Linked DNA regions of Homo sapiens. The protein of the gene in region 2 purifies or fractionates together with the protein of the main gene of each other region. This does not show direct contact. Each region holds a gene or a part of one and is shown on either strand. Other genes may lie near its edges. The genes, in order: SRSF4, ARGLU1, ZC3H14, CCDC9, SRFBP1, POC5 and GPALPP1.

Evidence for each region.
Region 1: the proteins of ARGLU1 (region 2) and SRSF4 purify together in Homo sapiens (affinity purification with mass spectrometry; one large-scale study listed by BioGRID and IntAct). This does not show direct contact.
Region 3: the proteins of ARGLU1 (region 2) and ZC3H14 purify together in Homo sapiens (affinity purification with mass spectrometry; one large-scale study listed by BioGRID and IntAct). This does not show direct contact.
Region 4: the proteins of ARGLU1 (region 2) and CCDC9 purify together in Homo sapiens (affinity purification with mass spectrometry; one large-scale study listed by BioGRID and IntAct). This does not show direct contact.
Region 5: the proteins of ARGLU1 (region 2) and SRFBP1 purify together in Homo sapiens (co-immunoprecipitation; one large-scale study listed by IntAct). This does not show direct contact.
Region 6: the proteins of ARGLU1 (region 2) and POC5 purify together in Homo sapiens (co-immunoprecipitation; one large-scale study listed by IntAct). This does not show direct contact.
Region 7: the proteins of ARGLU1 (region 2) and GPALPP1 purify together in Homo sapiens (affinity purification with mass spectrometry; one large-scale study listed by BioGRID and IntAct). This does not show direct contact.

What each region holds. Positions count from the first base shown.
Region 1 is NC_000001.11:29,179,101-29,183,072, reverse strand, and holds the start of SRSF4 (serine/arginine-rich splicing factor 4), read left to right. Parts: upstream 1-1,172; 5' UTR 1,173-1,320; coding exon 1,321-1,427; intron 1,428-3,972. UniProt on the Homo sapiens protein: Plays a role in alternative splice site selection during pre-mRNA splicing. Represses the splicing of MAPT/Tau exon 10.
Region 2 is NC_000013.11:106,561,638-106,565,137, reverse strand, and holds part of ARGLU1 (arginine and glutamate-rich protein 1), read left to right. Parts: intron 1-3,500. UniProt on the Homo sapiens protein: Dual function regulator of gene expression; regulator of transcription and modulator of alternative splicing. General coactivator of nuclear receptor-induced gene expression, including genes activated by the glucocorticoid receptor NR3C1.
Region 3 is NC_000014.9:88,561,619-88,565,836, reverse strand, and holds the start of ZC3H14 (zinc finger CCCH domain-containing protein 14), read right to left. Parts: upstream 2,801-4,218; 5' UTR 2,704-2,800; coding exon 2,668-2,703; intron 2,491-2,667; exon of another isoform or gene 2,382-2,490; intron 2,187-2,381; coding exon 2,144-2,186; intron 1-2,143. UniProt on the Homo sapiens protein: RNA-binding protein involved in the biogenesis of circular RNAs (circRNAs), which are produced by back-splicing circularization of pre-mRNAs.
Region 4 is NC_000019.10:47,269,489-47,272,453, forward strand, and holds the end of CCDC9 (coiled-coil domain-containing protein 9), read left to right. Parts: intron 1-918; coding exon 919-965; intron 966-1,064; coding exon 1,065-1,200; intron 1,201-1,593; coding exon 1,594-1,699; intron 1,700-1,785; coding exon 1,786-2,190; 3' UTR 2,191-2,465; downstream 2,466-2,965. UniProt on the Homo sapiens protein: Probable component of the exon junction complex (EJC), a multiprotein complex that associates immediately upstream of the exon-exon junction on mRNAs and serves as a positional landmark for the intron exon structure of genes and directs post-transcriptional processes in the cytoplasm such as mRNA export, nonsense-mediated mRNA decay (NMD) or translation.
Region 5 is NC_000005.10:121,964,975-121,968,474, reverse strand, and holds part of SRFBP1 (serum response factor-binding protein 1), read right to left. Parts: intron 1-3,500. UniProt on the Homo sapiens protein: May be involved in regulating transcriptional activation of cardiac genes during the aging process. May play a role in biosynthesis and/or processing of SLC2A4 in adipose cells.
Region 6 is NC_000005.10:75,686,438-75,689,937, forward strand, and holds part of POC5 (centrosomal protein POC5), read right to left. Parts: intron 2,729-3,500; coding exon 2,575-2,728; intron 892-2,574; coding exon of another isoform or gene 773-891; exon of another isoform or gene 511-772; intron 1-510. UniProt on the Homo sapiens protein: Essential for the assembly of the distal half of centrioles, required for centriole elongation. Acts as a negative regulator of centriole elongation.
Region 7 is NC_000013.11:44,996,038-44,999,537, forward strand, and holds part of GPALPP1 (GPALPP motifs-containing protein 1), read left to right. Parts: intron 1-3,500.

The DNA.
Region 1 (3,972 bases), on a different chromosome or scaffold from region 2:
TTATCCTTTCAAAATATTCAAAAAACAAAAACAAGCAAAGAAACAAAACCCTTTATGGTTCTAGGTACATGGCGTTAGTGAGAAGGGAACCAATATTTATTGAGCTCTTACCATGTTTCAGACACTGTTCCAAGTACTTTCACATACACTACCCCATTTAGTGACCTGTGTAATCCTTGAGATGGGTATACATTATTCTAATTTTACAGGTTAGAAAATAGACTGGATAGGCCAGGCGCAGTGGCTCACGCCTGTAATCCCAGCACTTTGGGAGGCCAAGGCGGGCGGATCACCTGAGGTCTGGAGTTTGAGACCTGCCTGGCCAATATGGTGAAACTTCCTCTCTCCTAAAAATACAAAAATTAGCCGGGCGTGGGGGCGGGCGCCTGTAGTCCCAGCTACTCTGGAGGCTGAGGCAGGAGAATCGCTTGAACCCGGGAGGCGGAGGTTGCAGTGAGCTGAGGTCGCGCCACTGCACTCCAGCCTGGGCGACCGAGCGAAACTCGTCTCAAAAAAAAAAAAATAGGTTGGATTGTGGTCAAGTAATTTACTCGGCGTCATGCCTAGTCTAGCTCCAAAGCTCCAGCCTTCTCCGCTTCTCACACTGCTTCTATTTAAGCAGTGTCCTCTTAAAAATAATACTGGTCTCATTTATTGGGCACTTGATATGACAAAACTACTAAGTGCTTTATGTACGTATTCTCATATAATTCTCAAGACAACTCTGGAAGGTAGGAACTACTCTCCCCCTTTTACAGAAAAGATAAAGGAGGGTCCGAGACATCGCGCGTAACAAGCCCAAGGTCACGGGTACACAATCGTTTGGAAGCTAGGTTTGATTCCAAAGCTCCAGCTCCGAAATCCAAACCACACCCGGTTCAAAGGACAAAAGCACAAACGCTCGCTCGCTGGGCTCTAGGAGGTGCGGACACTTCCGGGGGAGGGGCGAAGCCAGCTGGCTGCGGAAGGCGGTGCAGGAACCCCTTTGGCGAGCTCGCGCGAGGACGTGCCGCAGCGCCGCCTGTCGATCACCTTGCCCCGCCGCACGTCGGCGCGCCCCCGGGCAAGCTCCTCCCCCAGTCCTGGCCGAGCGGGAAGCGAACGCGCGCTCTCTCCGGTTACCTTCCGCCTCGGGGAAGGGCGGGGGAAGTGGAAGCGCGCGCTCGCGAGCTGCGTGCTCGCGTACGTCGCCGGGGTTCGGCTGCGTCCGTCCCGCCGCCCGCCCGTTGCCGCCGCCGCCGCTGCCGCCGTGCTCTCGCTTTGCCCGCCGCCGCCTAAGGGGGGCTGGGGCCGGGGCCAGCCATCACTGCCGTTGCCGGGATGCCGCGGGTGTACATCGGCCGCCTGAGCTACCAGGCCCGGGAGCGCGATGTGGAGCGCTTCTTTAAGGGCTACGGGAAGATCCTGGAGGTGGATCTGAAGAACGGGTGAGGAGGGCGAAAGAGGGTCCGGCCGGGCGGGGACAGACCCCATAGGTGGTGGGGAGGCCGCGGGGACGGGAGAGGGACGCCTGGTCCGCGCGGAGCGGCTACCGGCCTGGCCAGGCTCCGCCATAGTGGCGGCGCCTCGGGGGCGCGGGTAGGCCCCGGTTCCCACTGCGCCTGCGCGGGTGGGGGTGGTGGAGGCATAATGGGAGCTGTGCTGAGGCCCTGAGTGGGACGGGGAGAAGGAAAGCCCGAGTGGGGCTGGTGCTCCGGGCAGGGGGGCACAGCTCCAGGGCGCCCGGGAGACCTGGGTTTTCCCTTCCTAGGCCCGGAACTGGGGCCCTATTCGTTTCTGGGTAGACACCAACCTTTCCCGCTCTGAGGACTACTGGAAATAAACAGGATTTCCTGCTCCCTTTCACCTCTTGCCCGGTCTCATGGATCAGACGGTCACAGCGCCGTCTTCCCCGAGGACTGGAGCCTTGGAGGGAGGCCCTTTTTAGCCGTGTGCCACGCTTTTTTGGGCGGGAGACTCCAGTTTGAGTAGTCTAGTGACAGTTTCGAAAGTATCGTCTTGCCGTGCTGAAAGCCTTCACCGTTCCCTCTGCAAGAGTAAATTAAAGTCTTAACTTCTTATCTTTAAGACTCCGTGCAGAGTTTCCACGCTGTGGTTTCCGTTTTCCAACTTACCGAAAAATTGCTTGGCCGTTGTAGAATTTGTTAGGAGAATAGTGGCCACCCTGGCTAGTATCTGCGTCTGGTTAACGCAGACGGAGACGAAATTGTTAACTTACTGCCTCCCCCAGAGTATGATCTATTACTTGTATTCTTAATCTACTTCGGCAAAAATAGTGCCAGCATGAGCTACAGGTTTTAGGGAAAACTGTTGAGGAATCAGGCCTGGAGAAAATACTCAACGGGGAAAACTGGGAACCAGATGTTAGGTAGGGCTTGGAAGGCATGGATATAAAATTAAAAGGACTGGGGTGACATTTTAGGGCACTAAACCTTGGGTGTTAGAGAACTCTTGGCTTAAAAAAGAAACTCTACTTTGCAACAGTTGTAATATAGCTACCGTTTACTCCCCAGGGTTATACTAGTAACTGACACCTGAAACATTTTGAAAGTTACCTAAGTATGTTTCACGTATGAGAAAACTGGTAGCTACCGTATTCTCAAATGATGATTTGGGTTTAAAAAGCCATTTCAAATTAATTATTAGAATCGTTTTCTTTCTGAGGACGTCTTTAGTAAAGTACTGATTTCTTTTACAGTAAAAGGCTTTAAAAACTACTCCTTTTCTACAGTAAAACGTTCAGTTCTTAAGGATATATTGAAGTGGCGGGTAGACGTTATTGTATACATACCATATATGTGAAAGTTGAAACTCCAGTTTTTTTCAGAGCCCAGCTAAATTGACAGCATAACTAACTTTTGTGGACAAAGTGTGGATTTTGAAGCCAGCCAGGCCTAAGTCAAATCCTGGTTCCACCACTTACTACGTATGGGCAAGTTACTTCTCTGAACCTGGTTGTTCATTCATGTGGAAAAGGAAGATTAGAGATAATAAATGTAAAGCATTTGGCTTAGGCAGTAAGTGGCAGCTATAATCAGAGGGATGAGGAAACATCTTTGCTTGTTGGTGTTTGATAACATAAAGCGTGTTTGGTGAGGTCTTTTCTAATGTTACTCAGGTGATAGTGTGCAGGAAATGACAAGACTGTTAATGGGAAACTGATTCATCAACCAAATGTATTGATAACCCATCAACAAAATGTCCACCACTGTGCTAAATGAATTGGGGGAGGAGGCAGAAAACAGTTCTGCTCTTGAATAAATTAAGCATTATGACATGTGCACTTTGAATTAAGAAATGTTTGCTTTCGCTTTAAACTCTAGTAAAACTTGGAATGATTTGCTTGAAAAGATGTGTTGAAATGGCTTTGAAGAATAGATTAGAGCTTGAAGTGAAGAAATTTAGGTTTCTGGGAATAGTATATGTCGTAGTTGGGGCTCAGGCATGGTGACTTGTGCCTGCAATCCCAGCTGAAGTGTGAAGATTACTTCAGGCCAGGAGTTTGAGACCAGCCTGACCCCATCTCTAAGAAAAAAATTTTTTTAATTAGCCACGCGTGGTGACACTCGCCTATAGTCCTAGCTACTTCAGAGGATGAGGCAGGAGGATCACTTCAGCCTAGGATTTCAAGGCTACAGTGAGCTATGATTGTGACACTGCACTCCAGTCTGGGTAACAGCAAGACCCCCATCTCTAATAAAATAAGTACAATGCTGACTTTTTTTGCTTTTTGATGAATAGGGAAAAAATATTTTTTTAATGTCATAATTGGTGTTGAAGACATGGTCCAGTAAGAAGCAATTATGAAAAATAATAAACAATCTAGCATGGATCAAGCCTTATGAAGAATCTAGAAATTTAACAACATAAACCAGAAACAACGACTATTAGATTTTACACTAAAAATTCGAAATCAATGAGTAGGAATTCAAAGGCTCTGGAAGGAAGAAGTGAGCAACCCAAAAGGAAGAT
Region 2 (3,500 bases):
ATTTTAAGCAGGTGAATGACATGGTGCCTTTTTTGTTTTGATTGTTGTGTAGGATGGAAACTAAGAGGTGGGTACAGAAGTTTACACAGGAGTAGTGAGGATGGTTGTTGGAATGGAAAAGAGGGACAGATTTAAGAAACATTCAGGGTATATTAAATGGAATGTGGGACTTCAGAAAAAGAATGTTGGTTCTCATGTTTATAGTGTGGCTGTTGCAACTCATCTACCAAATGTTTCAGTAACAACCATGTGGCAGGTACTGGTAAAAATGTCAGAAACTTTTTAAATAGTGGATAAGGGAGAGGGAAAGGGGATAAGAGAATGGTGCCTTCACTGTGAGCACTAGTTTTGGATATACTGTACTGAGTTTATCCAGACTTGATCATGTGAGACTGAAGCCTAGCTGAGAGGGGCTTCGCTGAATGTCGTGAAACCTTGAGAGTATATGGAATGACCCAGGGAGAGTGTGGAGAGAGGAGAGCGGTTCATTCAAGGGACTGAAAGAACCTTAGGACATGCCTGTATTTGCAGTTAGGAAGAGGGAGAAGAGCCTATGGTGGAAGCAGAAAGAAATATGGTAAAAATGCATAGTGTCAAGTGCCCTTACAAGAAATCTAGTTAGATGGAAAGAGACCGTAAAATAAGAATCAACCATTGGGTTTAACTAATTAGGAATTCTTTGGTAAGATTGGAAACCTTATTGGTTTACCACTTATAATTCTGAGTTGCTGAATAAATCACCTCCCTCTAACCTTGTTTTTAAATCTGTGAAATGGAGATAATCTGTCTTGCTTGTTGTGAAAATTGGAGATGATGTATTTAAAGTAGGTGATACTTGGCATGTAATAGCTCTCAATAAGTAATGTTATTTAATGTAACTAACTTACATGGAGCCAGACCGAGCCTGATGAATTTCAGAAGTGATCTTATGAGTTGTCATCTTAATGCTGAGAAGGTAGGCCTTTACATTTTTAAAGACTTTTGCCCTCAATTTTGAATAGGCAGTTCACATGGTTCAAAATTCAGTTCAAAAGATCTTCCTCTCATCCTTGCGTCCCAGCCATTCAGTGTGGTTCTTCTCACCCCTCCCCCACACCAGTAGCACCATTTTCTTAAATGCTCTTTTGAGATGCTGCATGCATGTTATATTAACTGTTGAAAAAATAGACAACTGAAAATAACTTGCAGCAAATCAGGAAAATGTTAATGGCATAGTAACTTACTCTAGCCTGTGATATCTAGGTTCGAATATCCTCCGTGTTCAACTGGATGACGGATTAAGGGCCTTCTAAATTAGAGTATCTACACTGAACTGGGATCTATATAAGTGATTCTTAGAATACTTGGGCAGTTCATTGTGAGAGCAAAGAAGAGCTTTTAGGAGAAAATTGATTATATGGAACCGCATATTTTTGGAGGTTAAGGCTCTGACAGAACATTAAGGCATAAGACCTAGCTGATGTTAAGAATATGTATTCATTTATTTATTTATTATTTTTGTAGAGACAGAGTCACTATGTTTCCCAGGCTGATCTTGAACTCCTGGCCTCAAGTAATCCTTCTACCTCAGCCTCCCAAAGTGCTGGGATTACAAATGTGAGCCACCGTGCCTGGCCTATACTTTTTTCTTCCTTTTTTTGGTCGTTAAATCTGTGTGCTTGTCTTTGCCTTGCTTATTTGTCCTGCAGAAACCGGTGTAGGGTGGTAGTATAGTGCTTGCTTGAGATCGTTAGCTTTGGCATCTACTTAGGTTCAGAGAAACAGCTCAGCAACATCCAGTGTGCTCGAGTCTAGAAACTTCAGCTCCTTGTTCTTAGTTTCCTCAGTAAAAATGGGATACATACCCACTGCATAGGAATAATTATGTGATTTAAATGATGACATGGTATATAAAGCTTTTGGCACAATATTATATGTTACCTATTAAGTAATAAGTAAATGCTGTTTGCTAATAATTATTAAGCGATTCCTAGAAGTAAACCCCTAGGATTGAGTTCCCACATTTTAAAGATGTTTTAAAATAATGGTGCCAGTTACTCTGTAACAGTGCCGAAGTGCTGTAGCCTTACTGTTTTGTTTTTAATAGTTAGCATTTTAAAGTTCAGTGTGACTAGTGGTTTTTTTTTTTGTTTTTTTTTTTTTTTTTTGAGACAGGGTCTTGCTCTGTCGCCCAGGCTGGAGTGCAGTGGTGCAGTGGCGCAATCTCAGCTCATTCTCCTGCCTCAGCCTCCCGAGTAGCTGGGACTGCAGGCACCCGCCACCACACCCAGCTAATTTTTATTTTTTATTTATTTATTTATTTTTATTTTTAGTAGAGATGGGGTTTCACCGTGTTAGCCAGGATGGTCTCGATCTCCTGACCTCATGATCCACCTGCCTGGGCCTCCCAAAGTGCTGGGATTACAGGCGTGAGCCACCGCGCCCAGCCTGACTAGTGTTTTTAAAATACCTGAGAGCACAGAGAAAATAGGACCTAGTATTATACCATTTCATTGAAAACCTTGAAGATCTTGATTTAATGCTTTCGTCAGTATAACATATTATTGGCAGGGAAATGGATATTCAGCAGAGGAGCATGAGGAAAACATTAGAGAAAAGAACATCATGAGGGTGACAACTGCTATGGCAAGGGTTTTGAGGAGTGAATAGGCTGTTAGATGATACCTATTTTGCAAGACACTGACCCACTCAAGAAAGTTCAGTGCCTCTTATGGGAGTAGGCATAATAGTGGTTTTATCATTGATTATGATGATAAATTTGCCATCAGTAAAGATGAACTCATGCTTAATTCAGTTGTATATGTGCTCACTGGTTTGCTGAATTCAGTGTATGGTGAGGGGATAAAATTGAGCTTTCCTTCAGCATTGTTTCTAAAATTTGATTTAAAATTTTTTTCTGATTACTGAAGTAGCATTTTTAATTTTACCAAGAAAAACAGCAGAAATTATATTCTTGCTAACACTTGCAGGCAAACAGTTTTGCTGTGGTACCCTGAACCCTGCCTGTTGCAAAGCTTCATTTTCATATTGGGATGCCTTGCAGTTCCTCCAGGAACAAAGGGAGATAAGCAGCTTTGTGAGAAACTGCACTAGGTCATTTCTCATTCTCCAGTGTTTCAGTTGAGCGTGGGACTTTCCACTTGCCCTCCCTTTGGGCTATAAAGTCGCTGAGCTGTAGTTAGAATTGACTCCTTAGCAGCGGAGCAGCCCACGGCCTGCCTGTACTGCCTGTTACATGGGCCCTCTGGTTTGATGTCATCAGTGGAAATAGAAGCAGGGAACTGACATTCTGATTTGGCATTTGCTGTAAGTAAATTTATTTGGCTCATTTTCTCCTTACTGACCAAAGCTATGGAAATGAGGCCCTGTTAGCCACTGCGCTTTTGCTGAGGGATGGCTTGACTGCCAAAAATAACCTTGAGTGTGTATCAGGTCTCTTCTGCCTTCACCAAATTCTTAAGATGGCAACTTTTTACTCCTAGGGCCTTCTTTCTACTTTG
Region 3 (4,218 bases), on a different chromosome or scaffold from region 2:
TTTTTATATATCTTGTTCTATGTGCTTATGACTGAAGAATATGAAAAAATCTGGTCTCACAGATATGCAGTTGAAAAAGGAGTATTCTGATAGTCTTTTCAGATAAGGTGGATATTCTTCTGTGACACTACACCAAAACTAAACAAGTGGTAGCTTATTAAATGTTAAAGCAACGTGGAATGTCAAATACGTCAATGACCTTTTTGAACTGTTGCACAAAAATCCACTGACCCACCCCAGAGTTTAAATAAATCTTTAATCCACTGCATAATTTTGTAATATTATGCATTGGTTATTTAGAAAAGATTGGTTCACTTAGCTACAAAAACCACTGACACGTTGATATATTTCATTATGCAGTATAAAATAATTATTTTTTAATATCGCCATTGAGTTGGCCGGATGCAGTGGCTGACACCTGTAATCCCAGCACTTTGGGAGGCTGAGGCACGCGAATCACAAGGTCAGGAGTTTGAGACCAGCCTGGCCAACATGGTGAAACCCTGTCTCTACTAAAAATACAAAAAATTAGCTGGGTGTAGTGGCAGATGCCTGTAATCCCAGCTACTCGGGAGGCTGAGGCAAAAGAATCGCTTGAACCCGGGAGGCAGAGCTTGCAGTGAGCCAAGATCACGCCACTGCACTCCAGCCTGGGCAACGAGTGAAATTCCATCTCAAAAAAAATAATAATAATAACAAATTTTTTTTAAATCACCATTTATTTAATCAGAAATTTTTTAAGTACTGGGAAGCTGTGAAATTCATGGAGGCAGGCTCAGATTTTCCAAAATTCTAATTTTCATTTGAAAGCTCACATGTGATTGGCAACAAAGACTATGGATTCTTTTCTTTGCTCACTTTCAAGTAAATATCTGCCAAATATCCTAGTGTATGTAACCAGTTTGTCAGTACTTTGAAGTTAAAAATGATGTTCCCTGAAAGAGGTGGCTAGCTTAGTTCTCAACTAAAATGATTTTCCTCAGAACAATCGTATTTCAGTATACAATAAAAATGTTTTATGAGCATTTCTATTTCCTCGCACTGAATACTAAGAAGATAAAAAATATTTTGTAAACCCTGGACTTCACATCTTCATCAATGACATTTTAAGTGTAATTGGCTCAAAAAGAAAAAAACTACAAGGGGGGAGTGATTTGAATATGATTTCATTATGGTGTTACTATGCTGACAAGTTTTATCAACCATTAGTTTTACACAATCCAAACACCACCACCACAGTGAAAAATAACAAATACCATCTTAGTATTAATATGAAAACAGTTTTGACTTCAGAGGCCCTTGGAGTCTCCCACACTTTGAGAACCACTGTCATTAGTGGTAGCTATTATTTTTATAGGAGGCACCAGCTTTGGGGGCAAACCATAAAACCTTGCTCAAGTAGGCAAAGCCTCAGTTTCCTTGTTTACACAGTCAAAGATACTGCCACTTACCTTCCAGGATTCTCGTAGGGATTATCCTGAGTTAATACATATACAATAGTTAAGCACAGTACCTGACCCAGAGTAAACACTCAAATTATAAAAGAATAAAGAGACGGAAAAAGCCTTACTGTTTCAGAGAGAGAGGGAAAACATAAAGAGATCGGAAAATAAAACTCACTGAACCATTACAGAAGCAAATGCCAGAAAGCATCAAACATTCACATCCAACATCAGAGTTCTAAAAACAAATGTCAAGAGGAAAGTAACAAGAATAGGAAACTTTAAACAGGCATGGTGGCTCACACCAGTAATCCCCGCACTCCCAGCACCTAGGGAGGCTAAGGTCAGATAATTGCTTGAGCCCAGGAGTTAAGACCAGCCTGGGCAACGTAGCGAGACCCGTCCCTAGAATTTAAAATGAGAGAGAGAGAGAATAGGAAAAACATAAAATAAAATTCGGTCAAACAGAGCCTTAACGGAGGAAACTAAATTTCAAAACACCATAACAGAAGGAGGTTTGGGAGAAAAAAAACAAGGTTGCAAAAAGATGATAAAGAAGTAACCAGGGAGTATAAGATTTGAAGAAGGTAGAAGGGAGTCTCTCCCAATGTCCAAAGTACGGTGAGAAATACGCATTCACTAAAATTCTATTAGCTGCAAACTCTAAATTCTGTAAGACTAACAACCAAAAAAACACTTACCAACATAAGCTCCTAATTCTTGTAATTTCCCCTTAATGGCACTCTGAGAGAAAAAGAGCAAACGTGCATGTGAGAAAGGCGGCTCTAGGAAAACAAGACCGGACTCTGCAGCGGCTGAGGCCACTTTGCTGGTGCGCGCACCTCGGATCCCCCGGGCGGGGGCTGGGAGGAGCCTCGCCTGCACCGCCCCCCACCCCGCACCCCACTCCAGCTCCAGCCCCAGCCCCGCGGCGCCCACCTCCCGCAGCGGATCCAAAGCGGCGCCGTGCGCCGCGGTGGTGGCTCCAGCCGGGCCTGCGCCTGTCCTTCCATTTCCCGGCGGCTACTTCAGCCGCAGCCACGCTCCGAGGCCGCAAATGTCCCCAGGGCCGAGGCGGCCTGGACGAGGAGGAGCCGCAGCCCGCCAGGAGCGTCCAGCGGAGGCCAGGCCGCGGCGTCCACCCGGGCCCACAGTCCCCGTTACTCCTGACAACCGCCCGCTCGCCGAGACCTGGCTTCCCACCCCCGACCGGCACGGGCCTCACCCGGATCTTGCGGCTGATCTCGGTGCCGATCTCCATGGCTCTGCGGCGTGCGGGAACTCAGCACTGCGCGGCGCTTGGCTTACCCGGAGGCTGCCGCGGACTCCTACCCCGCAGCCGGGACACCACCGCCTCCTCCTCCGTTCCGCCCCCGGCCGCGCACACGGCGTATCCCCGCCCCGGCCGGCACTGCGCGCCGGAGTGAACGCGCATGCGCCCGTGTCCGCGCCTGCGCACGCCTTCTACCCGCGAAACCTGTGCTCAGGCAAGGAGGGCGGCGGCGTGCGCGTGCGGGTGGTCTTGCAGCTCCGCCTCCCGGGCACCTCGGGGACCTTTCGTTAGTCTCTCTGCTGGCCCTCCGCTTATTCATTTTATTCTCTCTTGGATGGTAAGAATGAATTAAATGTGTAGCAGAAAGATCTTGGGCTGTGATATGAGACGCGAGTTCAAATCCAGCCCTCACTTACTGTCAGTATGGTATCGGTCCAGGTATTTCAACTTTTCTTACCTGTAAAATGGAGTCTGCCCATTAGAGGTTGCACTGCAATTACCCTTGAAGGGAAAATGGACTATCCAGAGCAACAGAGCCAATCCGTCAACTCTTTGACTCTGCAGTACACTGGCCCTCCTGGGTTTGGTTCTGCCTTCCTTCTTCCAGGGCCACCCGTGGCCTCTCCCCGAGACGAATCCCATCCTCCTGCTTCTCTGAACACCCTCCGTGGGACAACACTTTTGTTCTTAGGACTTAAGTTGTCAACTCTGTGCTGATAATGACCGAATTTTCCATCAGCCTTGAATTCTCACACAAACCCCACTCCCAAATTCTAAGTAACTACTCTTATTTTCTCCCAACTCAGCGCTTAGACAGAAGTCGCCTTCATCTCCCCTTCCTCCACTCAATAGGTTACTACTGTTGATTCCCCTATTTGTATCAATAGCCGAATTCTCCCTATCCCTGATCACAAAACCTGGGAAACAGAGGAAGCACAGAGAGGTCTCCTTTCTCCCTCATATCCACTAATTCCTGAGAGTGGTCTCTGTTATCCATTGCTGCATAACAGATGACCACAAATTTAGCAGCTTAAAACACAAACGTTTATCATCTCATGGTTTCCGTGGGTCAACCTCACTGGGTCCTCTGCTCAGGGTCTCACAAGGCTACAATCGTGTCAGGCAGGCTGTATTCTCATCTGGAGGCTTGACTGAGGAGGAATCTATGTTCAGGCTCATTCAGGTTGTTAGCAAGAATTCATTTCTGGCTGAGTGCGGTGGCTCATGCCTGTAATCCCAGCAGTTTGGGAGGCTTAGGCTGGCGGATCACTTGAGACCAGGAGTTCGTGACCAGCCTGGGCAACATGGCAAAAACATGTCTCTTCAAAAGTACAAAAAATTAGCTGGGCGTGGTGGCATGCACTTCTAGTCTCAGCTAGTTGGGAAGCCGAGAGGGGAGGATTGCTTGAGCCTGGGAGGCAGAGGTTGCAGTGAGCCAAGATCATGCCACTACAGCCTTGATGAGAGAGTGAGACCCTGTCTCAGGAAAAAAAAAAATAATTC
Region 4 (2,965 bases), on a different chromosome or scaffold from region 2:
TACAGGTGCCAGCCACCAAGCCCGGCTAATTTTTGTATTTTTAGTAGAGATGGGGTTTCACCCTGGTCTCGAACTCCTGGCCTCAGGTGATCCGCCCACCTGGACTCCCAAAGTGTTGGGATTACAGGCGTGAGCCACCGTGCCCGGCCCTAATATTATCTTAGCTGGGGGTTCAGGAAGGCCTCTTAGCAGAGCCCTGAAAGGAGGTGAGGGAGTGAGCCAGTGAAAAACGTGGGAAGAACGTTCCAGGAGCAGGCGCTAAGGCCCTGAGGCAGGAGCTAGGTGTGGTGGAAGAGCCTGCTTAGCTGGAGAGGTGAGGGAGACTGGTGGGAAAGGTCAGATAGGGAGTTGTGGGTCATGTACTTGGGCAAGGGTCTGTGGTGATCCCCCCAAATTTTTGTTTTGGCGCCCACATTCTGAATCTTTTTGTATTTGTCACTATGCTGTCAAATTTGCCTCTTGCCCATCACCTGGTCCTATCCTTTGTTTTTTTTTTTTGAGATAGGGTCTCCCTCTGTCACCCAGGCTCGAGTACAGTGGCTTGATTACTGCTCACTGCAGCCTTGACCTCCCAGGCTCAAGTGATCCTCCCTCCTCAGCCTCCCGAGTAGCTGAGATTACAGGCACGTGCCACCACGCCCAGCTAATTTTTGTATTTTTTGTAGAGGTGGGGCTTCACCATGTTCACCACGCTGGTCTTGAACTCCTGGGCTCAAGCGATCTGTCTGCCTCGGCCTCCCAGAGTGCGGGGATTACAGGCTTGAGCCACCATGCCCGGCCCTGTCCTACTTCTAGTGTCCCCTGTCTGGTTGACCGTCTGTCTCTGATCCGATTCCTGACCCTGACCTCTCCCATCTTCTTGATCCTCTTGTTACCCTGTTCCCCCAGCTGCCCGCTCACCCGTTATCTTTCCCCCAGGTTCAAGGATGGCCCAGTCCCTGCCCATGAACCATCCCACCGCTATGGTGAGTGGGTGCCCTTGGATGAGCTGAGGCTCGGTCTGGGAGTCAGGGGTGGTGTGTGCCACACCTTCCCTTCCCAATGACACCTGGGTTCTGTTGCAGATGACCAGGCCTGGGCCCGGCCCCCGAAGCCCCCTACTTTTGGGGAGTTCCTGTCCCAGCACAAAGCTGAGGCCAGCAGCCGCAGAAGGAGAAAGAGCAGTCGGCCCCAGGCCAAGGCAGCGCCCAGGGCCTACAGGTGGGGCACCCCTTCTGCGGGCTTGCATACCCCCAGGGCTCTCCGCAGGGCGTTCTCTTCTTTGGCTTGCTGTGAAGGTGTGGGTACATCTGTCTGTCCCTGTCTTTGTCTTGGCCCTGTCTATCTCGCAGGTCCGTGGTTTGAGGGGCTTGGGATCTGGCTCTTGGTTTTACCCTCATCTGTCCCCTTTCTGCCGTCACCCATCTCCTCTCCTGCTACCTGCCCCACTTTCGTTCTGTCCTTGACACATGGGGACACACATCCGCCATTCCCTCAGCCCTCCACCATGCCAGATGCTCTGGGCAGCTCCTCCCTAGGGAGGGTGGAGGCAGGAAGCCCCTTCCTCCTGTCTACTCTCCACCCAGGCATCACCCCTCCCTCTGTTCCCTCTAGTGACCATGATGACCGCTGGGAGACAAAAGAAGGGGCAGCATCCCCAGCCCCTGAGACTCCACAGCCTACTTCCCCCGAGACTTCCCCCAAGGAGACACCCATGCAGGTGAGGCTGGGCTGTGGTTCAGGGCACGGGCCTGGGGTGGGGGCTCAGGACCTGTGCCTTGCCCTGACTTGCCTGTGTCCCCAAAGCCACCCGAGATCCCAGCTCCTGCCCACCGGCCTCCTGAAGACGAGGGGGAAGAGAATGAGGGGGAAGAGGATGAAGAATGGGAGGACATAAGTGAGGATGAGGAAGAGGAGGAGATCGAGGTGGAAGAAGGTGATGAGGAGGAACCAGCCCAAGACCACCAAGCCCCAGAGGCTGCCCCCACCGGGATCCCCTGCAGTGAGCAGGCCCACGGAGTCCCCTTCAGTCCGGAGGAGCCCCTGCTGGAGCCCCAGGCCCCTGGCACGCCTTCCAGCCCTTTCTCACCACCCAGCGGCCACCAGCCTGTGTCCGATTGGGGTGAAGAGGTGGAGCTGAATTCTCCCCGGACCACTCACCTGGCTGGCGCCCTCTCCCCGGGTGAGGCCTGGCCTTTTGAGAGTGTATGAAGCTGGCTGCCTGTGTGTGTGTGTGTGTGTGTGTGTGTGTGTGTGTGTGTGTGTGCGCGCGCGCGCGCGCGCGCGCGCGCGCTAGAGGGGTGTGGCTGGTGGGGGACCCTTGGGGCTGGGCCCTGGGACCCAGTGTGCCCCACAGCCCTGTCAGCTGAGGGGGTAGCGCAGCCCATGCTCTTCTGTACTGTCATGCCCGTCTCTGGAATGTCCACTCCCAGAGCCTGCCCCAGCCCTTCGAGCCCCCTCCCCAATAAAGAATTCACATCCTCCAATGACATTCCCCCAGGTGTGTCCTTGAACCCCCTTCAACTCCCCCTGGGCCTTCTCTCTTGGGGTGGGGAGATGTCAGGCGGGAAAGGGGGCTTGACTGGGGCTCCCCTTCCCTAGGAGGTGGCCAGTCAGCCCCTGCCTTCCCGGAGAGTGGGCCCAGCCTCCGAGGAACCCAGGAAGCTGAAGAGGAAGGGTCTGAGGCAACTCCAGGTGGGGGAGTGCATGGGGCATGGGATGGAGGCCGCTGCTTCCTCTTTCTCTGGGGCTGAGGGGCAGAGGGCTTGGGGGGAGTGGGGTGAATGTGTGTAGGTAGCAGTTGGACCATAGAGGTGAGGTGAAAAGGGTGAGCTCGGATAGGGATGGGGGGCTGGAGCCGGGTGGCAGGGGTGGGGCAAAGGGGCAACTTTATGGGCCAAGCCAATAGGAATTTGGTATGGAGGTTGAGGAGGTGGGGTTAAGGAAAGGATTAGAATTTTGGAGTCGAGCTCAGGGGTTTTGGAAA
Region 5 (3,500 bases), on a different chromosome or scaffold from region 2:
CAGTAGTCCCCCCCACCAACAATTTTGTTGTCAGCAGTTTCAGTTACCTGCGGTTAGCCAAAATTCCAAATATAAATAACTCATAAATTTTAAATTGTGCACCACTCTGAGTAGCATAATGAAATCTCTCACTGTACTACTCCATCCCACATGGGATGTAAATCATACATCCAGTGTATTTCTGCTGTATCCGTTACCTGCCCATTACTGTACAGAAAATAATAATAATAATAATAATAATAATAATAATAATGACAGAGTTTGGTACTATCTGAGGTTTTAAGCATACACTGGGGGTCTTGGAACATAACCCCCATGGATAAAGGGAGACTACTACAATTTATAATTTGTAAAACAATATGCAGTTTAAAAGTATACAACACAATACTATACACTGGGTATAGATACGTATGTTACTAAAATTGTGAAAAATATATAAGAGAAAAACACACACCAAGAGGAATAATTACCTCTGAGGTAGAAAAGAAGATGGGTGGAATTAAATATTAAGATATAGCAAAACACTGACATTTCCTAAACATAGGAAGTAGATTATAAGAAGATCTGTTACATTATTTTCCATACGTTTGAAGTAATTCATAGTTAACAAAATTATTGGGTTTCTTGTCTTTGTTCGAAACAAGGTCTGGCTCTATTGCCCAGGCAGGAGAGTAGTTGTGTGATCTCGACTCATCACAACCTCCGTCCCCCTCCCGGGCTCAAGCCATCTTCCCACCTTAGCCTCCCAAGTAGCTGGGACTACAGGTACGTACTACCATGTTTGGCTAATTTTTCTGTATTTTTTGTAGAGACGGGGTTTCACCATGTCGCCCAGGCTGGTCTCAAACTCGTGAGCTCAAGTGATCTGCCGGCCTCAGCCTCCCAAAGTGCTGGGATTATAGAGTGAGGCACTGCACCTGGCCAAAATTATTTTTGTATGAAGAGGACCCTAATTTTATCATATGGATGATAACTTATTGTTGATTTTACTTTTTATTTCTGATGAGCAACAATTTTTTAAAATACCTAGAGTGCTTAGTGATTATCTACGATTTAACCATTATTGGGCATATGCTGCCACCTAGCAAAACTTCCCAGAATAGTTTAATAACTAAACACAAATTGGTTCTTACGGAAATGCCCTAATTTAATATTTCAGAAAAAAATTATTAAAAAGTACTATGCACCTAATCACGACACAAGCGTTTTGTAACTTCATAAGCGCATACAAACGTGGTTCTTGACATTCTTATGTTTTACAATATGTGGAGGAAACTCATTTTGTTCTTTGGCACTTTAGTTTCTACCTTTACTGTCTTACATGAAATGAAAAGCAATTTTCTAATGGGCTTAATGGTAATTTGCTATCAAACAATAAAATAGGCCAGGCGTGGTGGCTCATGCCTGCAATCCCAGCACTCTGGGAGGCTGAGGCAGGCGGATCACGAGGTCAGGAGATCGAGACCATCCTGGCTAACACGGTGAAACCCTGTCTCTACTAAAAATACAAAAAAAAAAAAAAAAAAAATTAGCTGGGCGTGATGGTGGACGCCTGTAGTCCCAGCTAGTCGGGAGGCTGAGGCAGAAGAATGGCGTGAACCCAGGAGGTGGAGCTTTCAGTGAGCCAAGATCCTGCCACTGCACTCCAGCCTGGGCGACAGAGCGAGACTCCGTCTCAAAAAAAAAAATAAAAAATAAAAAATAAAAAAAAATAAAATGTCAGTTGTACATATAGGCCGTTGGCCTTCCTATGAAATTAAAGCACTCCATCAGATTGCTACACCTCCTAAATCTGATTTTTACATATCACTGCTGCCTAAATTTTAGAAAACAGATGACTTGAGAAAATCTAGCTCTAGTTTTGCAAATTATTTACGCACTAAATGCTATGGCACTGTTGTTTTCAATTGTGCATTTCTCCTCTAGTTCTAATGGAAAGGGAGGAAAAAAAGCATTTAGGAGATTTTCCCTCTCATTTGAACATTAGTTGACAGTTATGCTATCCATGCTTTCATCTGCCCATTATATACCTACTTCTTATTACCTGTAGACAAGGTACTGTGCTGGAGGTTAGGGAAGCTGCTATAAAAGCAATCAAAAATTCTCTCTTCAAAGTACCAAAAATATGCAATAAATAATCATCAGGATAGAGTAAAAAGTGATGGTTTATTTTTTAGAAGAGTAAAGATAAATTTTTACTTTACTTCGCAAGAATAACAACAAACTTTAATCTTAATCTCTTTACAACATACTTAGTATTGGAAGTTCTGGCCGGGGTAATCAGGCAAGAGAAAGAAATAAAGCGTATTCAAATAGGAAGAGAGGAAGTCAAACTGTCTCTATTTGCAGAAGACATGACTGTATATCTAGAAAACCCCATTGTTTCAGCCCCAAATCTCCTTAAGCTGATAAGCAATTTCAGCAAAGTCTCAGGATACAAAATCAATGTGCAAAAATCACAAGCATTCCCATACACCAATAATAGACAAACAGAGAGCCAAATCATGAGTGAACTCCCGATTCACAATTGCACAAAGAGAATAAAATGCCTAGAAATACAACTTACAGGGATGTGAAGGACCTCTTCAAGAACTACAAACCACTGTTCAAGGAAATAAGAGAGGACACATACAAATGGAAAAACATTCCATGCTCATAGATAGGAAGAATCAATATCGTGAAAACAGCCATACTGCCCAAAGTAATTTATAGATTTAAAGCTATCCCCATCAAGCTACCATTGACTTTCTTCACAGAATTGGAAAAAACTACTTTAAAGTTCATATGGAATCAAAAAAGAGCCTGCATAGCCAAGACAATCCTAAGTAAAAGGGACAAAGCTGGAGGCATCATGCTACCTGACTTCAAACTATAATACAAGGCTATAGTAACCAAAACAGCATGGTACTGGTACCAAAACAGATATATAGACCAATGGAACAGAACAGAGGCCTCAGAAACAACACCACACATCTACAAACATCTGATCTTTGACAAACCTGACAAAAACAAGCAATGGGGAAATGATTCCCTATTTAATAGATGGTGTTGGGAAAACTGGGTAGCCATATGCAGAAAACTGAAACTGGACCCCTTCCTTACACCTTATACAAAAATTAACTCAAGATGGATTAAAGACTTAAACGTCAGACCTAAAACCATAAAAACCCTAGAAGAAAACCTAGGCAATACCATTCAGGACTGAGGCATGGACAAAGACTACATGACTAAAACACCAAAAGCAATGGCAACAAAAGCCAAAAATGACAAATGGGATCTAATTAAACTAAAGAGCTTCTTCACAGCAAAAGCAACTATCATCAGAGTGAACATGCAACCTACAGAATGGGAGAAAATTTTTGCAATCTATCCATCGGACAAAGGGTTAATATCCAAAATCTACAAAGAACTTAAACAAATTTACAAGAAAAAAACAACCCCATCAAAAAGTGGGCGAAGGACATGAACAGACACTTCTCAAAAGAAGTCATTTATGCAGC
Region 6 (3,500 bases), on a different chromosome or scaffold from region 2:
TCTGTATAGAAAATTTGCAGAGTATTAGTTAGTTAGCTTATTTAAGAAGTTTAACAATGATTACAGTGCCTACCTAGATCCTTTGAACTCCTCTGATGAAAGGGACTAATTCAATATAAAATACTTTTAATTTGAAAACAAAACACACACTGAGTTTTAACTTGTTTTGGTAGAGATTCTGAGTGTCTATCTTTAGATGGTGGCAGACATTAGGAGATGTAGAAACAGTATGAAGGTCAGGGAAGAGAGGCAGGTGATCAACTCTTGCTAATATAGGCTGATATCAGATAACTCTTAAGTTTAATAATTAATCTCATTTTAGCTGGAATAAATTTTTCACTTGTCAAGTATTTTTTTTTACTGTGCCTAATTGGCACAGTAAAATTGGCAGATATAATTTTAAGGACTTTTTGTCATGTTCTAACTTCTTCATAAAAACCTCTAATTTGTAAGATTTAAGATACTGCACAACATGAGAGGTACTGCAAATTACAGACAGCAAAGAATCGGTACAAATAAAAAACCAAATATTTATTTTGCTCTAACAAGACAGATGCATTAGGAACTTTACATTATTAAAAACTGCATTATAAAAAACAATTTTTTTTTTTGTGAGATAGTCTCGCTCTGTCGCCCAGGCTGAAGTGCAGTGGCATGATCTCAGCTCACTGCAACCTCTGCCTCCTGGGTTCACGCCATTCTTCTGCCTCAGCCTCCTGAGTAGCTGGGACTACAGGTGCCTGCCACCACGCCCGGCTAATTTTTTGTATTTTTAGTAGAGACGGGATTTCACCATGTTAGCCAGGATCGTCTCGATCTCCTGACCTCGTGATCCACTCACCTCGGCCTCCCAAAGTGCTGGGATTACAGGTGTGAGCGACCGCGCCTGGCCTATAAAAAACAGTTGTTTTAATAGAAGGGGGCCAAAAGTAATTTTTTTTTCTTATGAGAACTAAAAAAAATAGGTGTCATTAAAATGTCATAAAACCTAAATATCACAAAGCAGATCCACTGAATTATACTGAACTTTTTTGCCTTTGGTAGCTCTACCAACATTATTGCTAATGCATGCTTTACCATTCTTGTCATCTTTCTCATCGATTGTTTCAAAAGTAACAGGAGCAAAAGAAATCATGTTGTGTAATTAGCAGAAGACATTTTCTTCAAATCCTCTTATGGATATTGGCCTTTAGGAGACACAGTTGCATTTCAATTTACATTTTAAGATGGTAAATGTATTAAGGTGGGAAATACTCCTAAGTCAATTCAAAATCTTTTTAAGTAGGTTATAAGAAACAGGTTTCTTGTAATTTAATGTAAGAAGTTCTAATAGGAATTTGTCACTTTACTTGTGAAACTCATATTTCTCCCAAGTAAACAATTAAATTTCTCAATTTGTGACACACAACTTGCTGATACTTAGAACTGAAACAGACTATTCTATCATTGAAGGTGGTGAGTTTGTTTTCAACCCTGATACTCAAATAAAAGACCATTTATTGGAAAAATCAAGTACTCACCTAGGTATTACCAAAATAAACTATTCAGCCTTGAGATTCCATGATTCTCAGTTTCTAAATTAAATATGGCCCACAAACCACAACCACTTCAGATAGAAAGCAATTTGCCTAAACTTACTCCTATCCACAATATGCATGCTTTAAATAATAAATGTTTGTTGATGTTTTAAAATAAGGGCATCACAAGCACAGAGAAGTTATTCATTGGATTGAAATCATGTTAATCATTTACAAAATCTTGAGACGTTGACTTGAATTAAAACTATTAATAATTACATCATGACTATCATCTTACACGTTAAAGTGCATTTTGTCTTTTAAAGTGTTTTCAGATATGTTTTACTGCATCCCACAAGAAGCCCCTAGGAAGCAGGTAAGGAAGGTTTATATTATCTCCTTCGCTCAGAGAAGAAATCTAAGGCCGAATGAGGAAAACAGGCCCCTGGGTAAATTGGTGGCAAAGGATTCTAGTTATGGGCTTTTCTACGCCATGCTGACAAAACTACTACACAAACCACTCTTATGTCAGACAATATGTGGATTTTTAAAAAAAATAAAATTACTTCTATAGATAGGTCTATATTTATGTTTGCTGCAATGAGCTTAGTTGAGGCCTTTCATAAACAGGAAGATTAGGAATTTCTAAAATGAGAAACCATGACTAGATAACAAATACTTACCAAAATAGTCCAAAATATTTGGCTACTTAAGAAAAGACAAAATTAGAAGTTTTGTACTTAAAAAGGCATTAAAATTCTTAGTTAAAAGAGATTTAAAATAATGCTATACATTAAAATATTATTTTCAACATTTAGCTTAAATACTTAGGAGTGACAGTGTACTTGATCAGATCTAAGATACCATAAGTAACCATGACTGAGCTCATTTTCATGGCAGATTTAAGTCTGGATATGACACCATAGAATTAAGAATAGCAGCACCTGGATGAAACATACCTACTGCAGATTATTTGTACTGTAGACCATACCAATCACCAAAATCTCCTCAAATCTTTTTTTGAAATTAGGCAGAGAAACTTTAATGAAATACTAACCTGCATCATTTCTGTTTTGAAATATAGTCATGGCTTCAAGATTTAATGCACATACACCCCTCATGAAAGCTTTTTTCATGGAATCTTCAAAGTGCTCTTTTTCATGTTGCATTCTTTGAATCTCAGCTTTTGCATTTTCCAAAGCTCCAGATAACTAAAATAAGAATGTTTAAAAAGCAAAACAATTTGAGATACAAAGAAGAATACTGTCAAAAAAATAGATATATACTTTGAGATTATTCTCATGTGAAATATTAAAAAGTTTGTCACTTACCTCTTCTGCTATGTGCAATTTATTTTAAAAGGTACCTCTTACCTCTATTATCTCCATCAACAAAATGCTTTCATTCCTAACCTTAAAATCAAGGTTCAAACAAGGGGAATTTTATCCAGTCCCATTGAATATTGCTGATGTATTTTCATTTCACAAAAAGATACACCATTTTTTACTGTAAAACTTTTATGTAGGATGTTAAACAAAATACATTAAGAGCCACAGACAGCCCTTTCAGAAAAAAATAAAATAAACTACATGCCTGCAATATTAACAGAATTTTTATAATGTAAATGTTACCTTCAGTATTTGAAGTGCAGAGTGACCCTAGGTACAACACACTTTCCCATAGGCCAAACCTCAGGGGACTGCATTTTTTGCATGTCGTAGTGAACTGCAGAAAATTATTTGTATTATGGATTTATTTTTAATCTTAACAATTTAATGCTGTAATGAGTTATTTTTTCATTTTAATATTTAACTTCAAGAGGCCTATTGCATTCTTTAGAATGGATTTTATTTCATTTCAATTCCAAATGTTTTCCCATGAAAACAATGTTAATTTTATTATTAAAAGTCAATGGGAAAAAATAATTTCAATTTCTTTTTTTCTTTTTTGAGATGGATTTCTGCTCTTGTTGCCTAGGTTGGA
Region 7 (3,500 bases), about 62 Mb from region 2:
TCCTTTTGGCGGAGTAGAGGACAGTAAAAATTCCTGGTCAGGCGCAGTGGCTCATGCCTATAATCCCAGCACTTTGGGAGGCTAAGGTGGGAGGATCACTTGAGCCCAGGACTTCAAGAACAGCCTAGGCAACATAGTAAGACCTCATCTCTACTAAAAATTTAAAAATTAGCCAGGCATGGTAGCATGCACATGCAGTCTCAACTACTTGGGGGGCTGAGGCAAGAGGATTGCTTGAGCCCAGGAGTTTGAGGTTGCAGTGAGCTGTGATCACACCACCGCACTCCAGCCTGAGTGTTAAAACAAGACCTTGTCGCAAAAAAAAAAAAAAATTCCTTAAGAGGGGCCCAGGATTTATGGGGGTTGGAGAAGCCAGGACCTGCATGAATACAGCTAACCATAATCCTTTGTATGGAGTCTGGAAGAAACCTAATGGCTGGCTGGGAACGGGATTTTTTTTTTTTTTTAAACAGCATCTCACTGTCATCCTGGCTGGAGTGCAGTGGCATGATCTCAGCTTACTGCAACCTCTGCCTCCTGGTTCAAGTGATTCTCCTGCCTCAGCCTCCTGACTAGCTGAAATTACGGGGATGCACCCTCACATCTGGCTAATTTTTGTATTTTTAGTAGAGATGGGGTTTCACCATGTTGGCCAGACTGGTCTGGAACTCCTGGGCTCAAGTGATCCATCTGCCTCAGCCTCCCAAAGTACTGGGATTACAGGCGTGAGCCACTGTGCCCAGCCTCTTTTTTTTTTTTTTTTTTTTTTTTTCCAGTTTTTAAAAATTGTGATAAAATACACATAACATGAAATGTACCATCTTAACCATCTTTAAATGTACAGTTCAGTGGCATTAAATACATTCAGATGATTGAGCAACTATTACCAACATATCCACATCTCTTTTCATCTTGTAAAACAGAAACTCTGTACTCACTAAGTAATAACTCCTCATTCCCCCCTCCAGCTCCTGACAAGCACCATTCTACTTTCTGTCTCTATGATTTGACTACTTTAAGTACATCATTTGAGTGGAATCATACAGTATTTGTCTTTTTTTTTTTTTTGGACTGGCTTATTTCACTTAGCATAATGTCCTTAAGTTTCATCCATGTGGTAGCAGGTGTCAGGATTACCTTCAAGTGAAGATTCCTGAATCCAGTCTGTTATCTGTCCTGTGTTCCTCACACTCTGCTGTCCCAGAAGGAGATCTGACAAGCATGACCAGAGTAAAGAGGAGTGAGGGAGCACACAGGTCTGAGATGGAACAAGTTAACTTCATTTGAATACTCTGAAAATTGACTGCTGGAAAATGTCCCCCAACGTCATGTCATTAGAAACCCTGGGGTGCAAATATTTTCTCAAGAGCGATCCACAGACTCCATATGCTGTTCTATGGAAGCTGAGTGGAGCCTTGGCCATTTTGACTCTAACTCCAGTCTCCTATCTGCAGTGACCTTCACCTCCACTAATTTCACCTACATTTTAAGCTGGAGTAGTGAGTCTACCCTACTCCAGCTCCAAAAACTCAAATTCAAATCTCATTCTCAGCAAGAACCCCTTATTCATTCATTGTTCTCACTCAAGTTACTCCCATTTCATTTGCTTTTTATTTTTGTTTTTTAACCTCATTGAGCCTTCCATCCCTAAGTACTTCTATCCCTAAGTACTTCCATCTGAGAGGAGTGCTTACATCCCTACTCCTGTTAGACTCCATGGTCCACCCATTCATCCACTCTCTTGCTGGTGCTCTCAACTGCTTTATCCCATTGGGTATTCTGCCAAACCCATCTAACAAAAGCCCAGCCCTGGATCAGTCCAAGTGTTTACCCCTTGTGAGCCTACAGCCAGGCTTCCTAATGCTGCTAGAAGAAACCTCACGCCTCCACAAGCTAATGCTGCTAAAAGATGGCCTGTTCCCTAACTGGGTCCATAGGTCTGTCCAGTAATCCTCACAGGCTTCACCTCCTTTCTCTTCCCCAATCTGCAACCTTGGCTTTTTAAAACTTTCCCTTTCTTTCTAAAACTTTTATTTTTCCGTCTACTTCATTGAACAAGTAGATGCCATCATAAGAGAACTTCCTCAATTTTCTGTTACTGTATCTAAAAACTATCCTAAATCCACGCCAAGCTTTTTGTCTGCCCTTTGGTAACAATAGAAGAGGTATACTGCTTCCTTCTAAAGCTAATCCTTCCATTTTTACTCTGACTCCCTTCCCTGTCCTTAGGGCTGCCTGCCCTTAGCATTTAACCAAAACATTCAAATCTTTCCCATCTTTGAAGAAAACTCTACTTCATATCCCCCTCTAGCTGCATCTTTTTCTTTCTCACTGTCTCTGGGTCTTCTATTTTCTCCTTAACCCATTGCATTTCTGCCCTCACCAGTCCACTGAGACCCTCACCAATTCAAGGCTTCCTTTTCAGTCCTAGTCTTCCTTGACCTCACAGCAACATTTGGCCCCTCTCTATCCTCTCTTGGTTCCAACCATCCTGAACACCTTTCAGTTTTCTAAATGTGATGACTCTTTTGCTTTCAGGCTTTTGCAGATGCTTTTCTTTCTGCCTGGACTACTCTTCGTCCAGTCCCCACCTTCTTTGCCCAGCTAACTCAGGTCCCACCCCTACATCACTGCTTCTAGGAAACATTCTTTGATGTTAACTACCTACTGCCTGTAAAAGATGGGTTGGGTGCCCCTTCTTTATATTTGCATGATTTAACCATGTCATGGGGTCAGCAAACTTTTCTTGTAAAGGACCAGATAGTAAATACAGTTGACCCTGTAGATCTGCAGGTTCTGAGTCTTCAGGTTCAACCAACTCTAGATTGAAAGTACAATATTCAAGGGAAGTGGAACCAAGGCCATAGCCACAGATTTTGGTAGCTGCAAACAGGGGAGTTGGTCCTGGAACCAATCTCCCGAGAATACCGAGGGACAACTGTACTTTTGACTGTAGGTCAGTAGGCAAAATCAAGATTATTGTAAAAGTATGTGTACAACAAGAAGGAAGCAAACTTCACAAAATTTTATTGTTGCAATCTAAAACATAATACCATATAATTTTTTTGTAATACAGGTCTACTAATGAGAAGAACAGAATTGGTTTTGGGGGAGTAACATTTCATTTCATCGGAGTTCAAGTTAGCATTCCTAGTCATCAGAATCAGTTGTGGATGTTCATCTGTTAATGCTGATCTGTAATGAGATTTTTATGTATTATACTGAGTTCATTTTTTTATATGCATATCACAATTCTGTGTGATATGAAAGGGAAATAAGTGAAATATAAGGAACGCGTAACTCCTGTTCTCATGGAATTTATAATCTATTTGGAAAATTATCATTGCAATAGGAGAGCCTCCTTAATGACGACAAGCATCACTGCTTTAGGAGAGATATGGAATAGTTCATTACATGTTCCCAAAATAATTTTTTGAGATTATTCATAGTTCAGAAGGATATCTATAAAAAAGTGAAGCCAGACATGTCCTTACTTTTAT